2 separate regions of the Homo sapiens genome follow, and region 2 is linked to region 1. The links come from fine-mapping of genetic effects on gene expression. A gene starts in region 1. The other region holds a variant in brackets. All regions are shown on one strand. Distances are between the middles of the regions. Region 1 holds the start of PIR (pirin). Region 2 overlaps PIR (pirin).

Region 1 (4,475 bases):
TTCAGTGAGTCTGAGTCTTTATAATATGGAATATTTCAGAGACATTTGTCATCTAATGAATAGCAGCTACACTGCCCTGAAGGGCAAATTAACAAAATCTACAAGAAAGAATTTTTGAGTTGATGGCTTGAAGAAGAAAGAAACAAAAATAAGGAAGTGTTTCAGATGTCCATGTACTTTTTTTTTTTTTTTTTTAATTTTTGAGACTGAGTTTCACTCTTGTTGCCCAGGCTGGAGTGCAATGGCACGACCTCGGCTCACGGCAACCTCCGTCTCCTGGGTTCAAGCAATTCTCCTGCCTCAGTCTCCCGAGTAGCTGGGATTAGAGGCATGCGCCCCCACGCCTGGCTAATTTTGTACTTTTAGTAGAGACAGGGTTTCTCCATTTTGGTCAGGCTGGTCTCGAACTCCCGACCTCAGGTGATCTGCCTGCCTCGGCCTCCCAAAGTGCTGGGATTACAGGCGTGAGCCACCGCGCCTGGCCCCATGTACTTCTATAATATGTATCTTTGAAAAGAAATTCAATAAGTTTTACAGAGGAGGAAAATGGAATTCGTGAATAAAAAAGAAAAGAGTCAAGGTACCTAAATAATGTGGTTGTCTTTAAAGATTATAATGGTGTTATTTGGAATCATTTAGGGAAGGCTTTGTTCATTGTCATATCAGCATGAGTTTTCTTTATGCTTCCCAAGATTCCAAAGGTGATCAACAGTCCATCTACACACTCATATATTTAGCCACCTACTCCACATCTTGATCTGGATGTCAATGACAGTGTGAAAAGTGCTCAAAGCTTAATATACAGGGTCACATTTCTCATCTCAAAACAGGACCCTGTTACAGTGAAACATTATACGCCCTTTGTTCATTTGTAAGAATTCTTCCCTCTCTCACCTTTGTTTCTCCTCATTTTAAGTCTTCTACCTTTTCAGACTTGTTCTTTTTTCTTTTCTTTTCTTTTTTCTGCAGGGGCCTGTAAATGGAATTCCTGCATTGCTCTAACCATGTACAACCTTGGACTTAGCTTTTACCTGTAACTGGCTTCTGAGAGACAAAGAGGAGAAACGTTCACTCCTAGTACACCTATTACAGCTGCAGAGGTAGAGGAGACAGTTGCAGAACTAGTTACAATGACGATAAGAAACAATACTTTGTTATTCCATAGCACCTTTAATGTTCATGTGTATTATCTCAGCTAGCCTTGAACTGCCTAAGTAAGGTGATGAGGACGGGTTTAAGCCCCACTGATATTTTAAAAGCCCAGAGAAAAGTGTTCGTTCCTCTACTAACCTGTTCTTTTAGAGCAGGGATCTGCATACTAGGCCTGCAGCCAAAATGAGTAGGTAGCCCACTACCTATTTTTGTATAGCCAGAGGGCTAAGAATGGTTTTTACATTTTAAGTGGTTTTACATTTAAGATCAAAAGAAGGATAATATTTCATGACAAGTAAAAATTATATGAACTCAAAATTGTATGAATTTTATGAATTTATATTTCAGTATTCATAATTAAAGTTTTATTGAACTACAGCCACATTCATTTATTTACATGTTATCTATGGCTGCTTTCTTGCTACAAAGGCAAACTGGAGAATGTACATGGCCTGCAAAGTCAAAGTATTTACTATCTGGTCCTTCACAGACAAAGTTTTCCAACCTTATTTTAGAGACACCACTGTCTTTCCTTTCTCAAAACCAGGCAATGAGCCTTCTGGTGTTTAGAGAATAGAAACTGCAGCTATGCCTGTACCACTAGTTAATAATCCTAGTAATCAACTAGATCCCCTCACTGGCTTGTGCCAGCTCCTCATTCTTCTGGAAAAACTCTCCAACGCCTGCCCACTGTGTTCCAACACCATACAAACTCTTAACCAATTATCTCCCCACTAGAGTGTGCCTTCTCTTCAGGCAGGAATAAAGACGTATGGCTGCCCGTCCCCACTCCCGCACTCCTTTTCTCGCAATTCTAACTGACAAACAGCAGGCAACTTATCTATGGAACAAACGATTCTGTAGTGCTTAGAATGTGACAGGCTCATTTAATTCTCATTTCAGCCCGATAAGGCTGGCACTATTATCATCACCATCCTCATTTTATAGAGGAGGAACCAGAGGCACAGAGAGACTGAGCCACCTGTCCCAGGTCATGTCAAGTGGTGCCTCCCAGCGGTGGAGGCAGCACTGGAATCCGTGCCGCCAAGCTCCGCCGGCTGGGTGACAGGGAGACTACAGTTAAAAACAGATTTCCCACAAGACCGACCGGAGCGCCGATCAGAGCACCTGCCCGGGCCACACATTTCCTCCTGGAGCACAGCAAGTGCCGCCTAAATTACCCGAGTGAGCATCTCTTCCCGGCACGAGAGGCAGGGAGGCCAAAGGGCCGCCAAGCTGGCCTGGGAGAGGCGTAGGGCGGAGCGAGAGTGGAGTGACATTCCCGAGGGCGGAGCCCCAGGGCCTCCGAGACCCGTAGACTCCCGCCTCCCGCCTCCTCTAGGCCGCCGGCCGCGAAGCGCTGAGTCACGGTGAGGCTACTGGACCCACACTCTCTTAACCTGCCCTCCCTGCACTCGCTCCCGGCGGCTCTTCGCGTCACCCCCGCCGCTAAGGCTCCAGGTGCCGCTACCGCAGCGTGAGTACCTGGGGCTCCTGCAGGGGTCCACTAGGTGAGGGAATGCTGGCGGTCAGTTTGCAAAATCCTGCCTTCCCCAGCTCACTTTAGACTCCTAGGGGAGATAACAAGAGATACTTAAATTGTACTACGAAATTTGGTGAAAATGGTAGACGGCTTTTCTTTCTGCAAAGCACTGAGATCTAAGTACCTCATCAGTTGTTCACATGCATACAATTTAATCGTAGGAGTCTGGAAGGACCCAGACATAATCTAGATGGGGATAAAGATACTTTCTGGTTGCTTCGATGTAGGTGATGACCGGCCTGTACTGCTTTGAGTATTAAGCTCGTTTCTGCGCCTTGCAACCTATCACCCAATAAATATTTATCGATTACTATTCAGGGAGGATACATTTTAGGGTAGGCCTTGACTAAGTGGAGGGTATTGTGGAGTAGAGCCCTTCTGAATAACAGCAGCTAACATTCTCATAGCACTAACTGCACCCCTTTGAGGTAGGCGGTCTTATCATTCCATTTTACAGATAAAACTGAGCCACAGAAAACCTCAGGTCACACAGCTGATATGTGGTGAAGCTGAGATGCAAACCTAGGCTGTCTGGTTCCAGAGTCTGCTTTTTGCCAAAGCACCTCTCTTCGTTTCAGTAGGAATCTTTGAAGGAATTGGGTATATTTCACTTGAAGAAAAGATTTAAGGGATTGGGGGTACTGTCTGCAAACACTTGAAGTGGAATAGGGATAGATTATATTCCTTCTGGGATAGTCCATTAGAACCTAGACCTCCCAAAGAGGAAAAGACTTTCGAATAACAAACTCTGGCTATAGGTAAGTCCTGAAATATGAGATACATTGCCAAGAACAGCTGGTCCATGACTTGCCTATGCTCTAGGAGACTTCATGAGTAAGCTGAAAGATTTCTTGCCCAAAATGTTGGCCCTGAACTTCAGGAATAGATGGGTCTTTGAATTCAATGACCCTCGAAGATCTCTTTTAATGCCAAGATCTTCAGCATGTTCTGGTAAGAGTTAGGGACCTCTTTGTTTTTCTCCATTTTCTCTAAGGCGCCACACAAACCTGCCCCCATCTGTCAGCCTCATTGGTAGCAACTACCTCATGGGTGCTACCAGTGAGGCTGACAGATGAGTGGCACTGGGGAAGGGGTGGGAGATCGAGAGAATTCAGTGAAGTAAGAAAGACAAAGTGTTCATTGGAGATTTTTAGTAAGGGGCCAACAGAGCTGCTAAAGTCATGCTTCACTTAACGATGGGGATATGTTCGGAGAAATGCATTGTTAGGTGATTTTGTCGTTGTGCAAGCATCTTAGAGTACACTTAGACAAACCTAGCTGGTATAACCTAGGTGTGTAGTAGGATATATGGTATAGCCTATTGTTCCTAGGCTACAAACCCATACAGCATGTTCCTGTACTGAATACTGAGGCAACTGCAACACCGTGGTGAGTATTTGTGTATCTAAACATACCTAAACATAGAAAAGATACAGTAAAAATATGGCATTATAGTCTTATGGGACTACTGTCATACATACAGTCCATATATTGTTGACTGTGTAATGTTGACCTGAATGTCATTATGTGGCAGGCACATGACTGTATCGCTAACCTTCGCACAAGATTACTGTAGGATTACATGAGATAGTTGTAAATAATTGGTGGGGTACTGGGCACCTAGTAGGTATGCATACATGTTCACCATCATTATGGTTGTTTTAAATCACCTAACCCAGGCCCTGCACATAGTAAGACATCAACAAATTGTAGCTGCTACTATTTTGCGCATCTAATCTTAATATCATTTATTTTGTAGTCCTTGGATGTTCCCTCCTTT
Region 2 (4,000 bases), 73 kb after region 1:
GTATTGTCATTTTAATGATATTAATTCTTCCAATCCATGAGCACAGAATAGCTTTCAATTTTTTTTGTGTCCTTTTCAATTTCTATCATCAGTGTTTTATAGTTTTCCTTGTATAGATTTTTCAATTCTTTGGTTAAGTTGATTCCCAGGTATTTTATAATCTTTTTTTGTAACCATTGTAAATAGGATTGCTTTCTTGATATTTTTTTCAGATTGTTCACTCTTGGTGTATATAAATGCTACTAATTTTTGTATGTTGATTTTGTATCCTGCAACTTTACCAAATTTGTTTATTAGTCTTAATAGGTTTTTTTTGGTGGAGTCTTTAAGTTTTTCTTAGTGTAAGATGATGTAATCTGTGAACAAGACTAGTTTGACTTCTTCCTTTCTTATTTGAATGCCCTTTGTTTTTTTTTTTTCTCTTGCCTAGTTGCTCTGGCCAAGACTTCCAGTATTATGTTGAATAAAAGTGGTTAAAATGGGCATCTTTTTCTTGTTCCAGATCTCAGAAGAATTCAGTTTTTCAACTGAATTCTTTCAATTTTTTCCCATTCAATATGGTGATAGCTGTGGGTTTGTCATAATAAGGCCTTTATTATTTTGAGGTACGTTCATTCTATACCCAGTTTGTTAAAGGTTTTTGTCATAAAGAGATGTTGAATTTTATTGAATGCTTTTTCAGCATCTATTGAAATAATGATGTTTTTTCTTCTTGATTCTGTTAATGTGATGTGTCACATTTATTGATTTGTGTATGTTGAATGTTGAAACATCTTTGCATCCTTGGGATGAATCACACTTGATCATGGTGAACAATCATTTTAAGGTGCTGTTGAATTCAGTTTGCTAGTATTTTGTTGAGAGTTTTTGCATCTATGTTCATCAGCAATATTGACTTGTGGTTTTCTTTTTTTGTTGCGTTCTTGTCTGGTTTTGGTATCAGGGTAATGCTGGCCTCATAGGATAAATTTGGAAGTACTCCCTCCTCTTCAGTCTCTTTGAAGAGTTTCAGTAGGATTGGTATTAATTTGTCTTTAAATGTTTGGTAGAATTCAGCAGTGAGGCCATCAGATCTTGGGCTTTTTTTTTTTTTATGGGAGACTTATTATGGCTTCTATCTCATTACTAGTTATTGCTTTGTTGAAGTTTTCTATTTCTTCATGGTTCAATCTTGGTAGGTTGTATGTATCCAGGAATTTATCAATTTTTTCTGGGTTTTCCAATTTCTTGGCATATAGTTGTTCATAATAGTCTCTAATGATTCTTTGTATTTCTATGGTCTCAGTTATTGTGTCTTCTTTTTCATTTCTGATTTTATTTATTTGGGTCTTCTCTCATTTATTCTTAGTCCAGCTAAAGGTTTGTCAATTTTATTTATCTTTTCAAAAAACCAACTTGTCACTTCATTGATCTTCTGTATTTTTTTGTCTCAATTTCATTTACTTCTACTCTGATCTTGATTATTTCTTTCCTTCTACTAATTTTGGATTCCATTCTGGCTATTTAAGTACAGAAAAATTTTAGATTAATTTGCTTAAACATAAGCCTTCACTATCCGTGATTTTTATAACATTAAGTGTATGTGTGCTTTAACCTTTTAGTGCAGTGCTTTTATCTTTAAACTTTTGAGTTGCTTTCCTCCAATCCCTTGTCCTCCCTTATCTATGTCCAGTACCCTCACTATATAGATCACAGATATATCCTTGAATTATATCTTGCTGTATTTTTCTCCACACTTATTTTTATACACTGACATATATGTGCATTCACATATATGCAAATATCAGGTTATTTTGTCATTTTAATAAAATGGAATCATAACTACTCTTTTACGTCCTATTTATTTGACTGAAAAATACTCATGGAAATCCTTCCCAGTTTACTTATATAGCTCCTTTTGTTTTGTTTTGTTTAAGAGACAGGGTTTCTCTGTGTCACCCAGGCTGGAGTAAAGTGGCACAATTATAGCTCACTGCAACCTCGAACTCCTGTGCCCAAGAGATCTTCCCACCCCAGCCTCCCAAGTAGCTAGGACTACAGGCACTCATCATTAATGGTGGCTCCTTTTAACAGTGATATTCTACATCATCTAAATACATACTATGATGTATTTAGCTATTTTCTATCAATGGGAATTCACTTTGTTCCTAGTGCTTGGCTACAGCAAACTGGTCTGCAATGAATACCTTGTGTATCTGCCTTCCCATGTGGAAATTTATTTTGATGAGACAGGTTTCCAGGGATGGTCACCAGATCTATGCATGCTTAGTTTTAAAAGACATTGTCAGGTTGCAATCCAAAGAGGCAGTCACACTTTCTATTAGCAGCATATAGAATACCAGTTTCTCCACAATCCCACTAGCAGGAAGTGTATGGTTCATGTTCATTTTTGCTCTGCTCTCAGACATCACCTTATATTGCCTCCTGAGAGA[GAA/A]CGTATATCTGTCAGTTTCCAAAGCTGTATTTGCATTTTATTTTGTCATCATGAATTTTAAACCTGAGATTTGTTTTCAATCATGTTTTGTTGTTGTTGTTGTTGTCGTTGTTGTTGTTTTGAGATGAAGTCTTGCTCTGTCGCCCAGGCTGAAGTGCAGTGGTGTGATCGCGGCTCACTGCAACCTCTGCCTCCCAGGTTCAAGTGATTCTCCTGCCTCAGCCTCCCGAGTACCTGAGACTACAGGCGCATGCCACCATGCCTGGCTAATTTTTGTATTTTTAGTAGCGACGGGGTTTGACCATGTTGCCCAGGCTGGTCTTGAACTCCTGACCTCAGGTGATCCGCCCACCTCGGCCTCCCAAAGTTGGGATTACAGGTGTGAGCCACTGCGCCCAGCCTCAAACACTTTTTTTTTTTTGACACGGAGTTTAGCTCTTGTCGCCCAGGCTGGAGTGCAATGGCATGATCTCGGCTCACTGCAACCTCTGCCTCCCGGGTTCAAGCGATTCTCCTGCCTCAGCCTCCTGAGTAGCTGGGATTACAGGCACCCACCACCACGCCCAACTAATTTTTGTATTTTTAGTTGAGATGGGGTTTCACCATGTTGGCCAGGCTGGTCTCAAACTCCTGACCTCAGGTAATCCATCCACCTCGGCCTCCCAAAGTGCTGGGATTACAGGCATGAACTACCACACCCGGCCTCAAAAACATTTTTATAGGGATACAACAGGAAATAGCTTAGAATTGCACATTTAGCATTGAGCGTCTGTAAACCCACTTTAAACAAGTGCGTTATGAACCCAGCTATGAAGCAAAAGATCCTTTCTTTTCCAATACATCACTTTTAGTTATAGTGTTCTCTCTTTCTCAGTCTGTCTGTCTGTATCTCTCTCTCTCTCTCCCTCCCCTATCTCTCTCTCTGTCTTACACACACACACACACACACACACACACACACACACACACACACAGACTTATCCATGCTTCCACTGCATTAGGTGACAAATACAAAGTTTGAGGCTTCTCTGTTTAGTGCCTAACAATTAATTCAAGTATTATAAAGCACTCATTATTTGCAGCTTTGATAGTCCTGGCTGCCTGTCATCAGACATACTGGATGGTAAAATTATGCTGTATAAAGTTTATTATGAAGTAATTCAAATCAAGGTCACCATTTGTCTTTTTTTTTTTTCCACCTTTCCAGGTCAAATTCCATCATAAACTCCAAGGACTGTCTAGATTCTTTTTATTTGGGTGCTTTGTTGTATCAAATATTTCGTGAAATGTGTAGGCCATTGGCTGGGTCCTGGACATGTTTCGTTTATAATGTTTTGATTGTTTTGTTACTCATGGTAAAGGGATTTGACATGGATGTCTGGATTATGTTTGGCTTTTGGCATAAGCTTTGCAGTCTAACTAATTTAATGTTGACTTGGTTTTATCATTAACAGACTAATTGGATAGCAATAGAAGCATACACTGCTACCATCCTCTCCCTGATACTGGGAAAATGCATATATTCCAAGGGAAATCCAGTTAAGGGAGACTGAAAACGTTTCTCAT

Evidence for each region. PIP is the estimated chance that this variant, and not a neighbour inherited with it, causes the effect.
Region 2: its variant is the best candidate, but not a certain one, in a credible set for the expression of PIR in nasal epithelium (TOPMed, PIP 0.53).

The regions. Positions count from the first base shown.
Region 1 is chrX:15,491,344-15,495,818 of GRCh38, reverse strand. PIR (pirin) reads left to right here and starts at 2,486. Exons shown (of 10, transcript NM_001018109.3): 1 at 2,486-2,629. RefSeq lists enhancers at 2,070-2,573, 2,574-3,076.
Region 2 is chrX:15,418,752-15,422,751 of GRCh38, reverse strand. All of the region lies in intron 6 of PIR (pirin), which reads left to right. The region is part of intron 5 of PIR-FIGF (PIR-FIGF readthrough); the gene reads left to right. Among named protein-coding and RNA genes, the nearest start is that of VEGFD, 36 kb to the right of the region's middle. The variant GAA/A (reference allele first, on the strand shown) is at 2,433.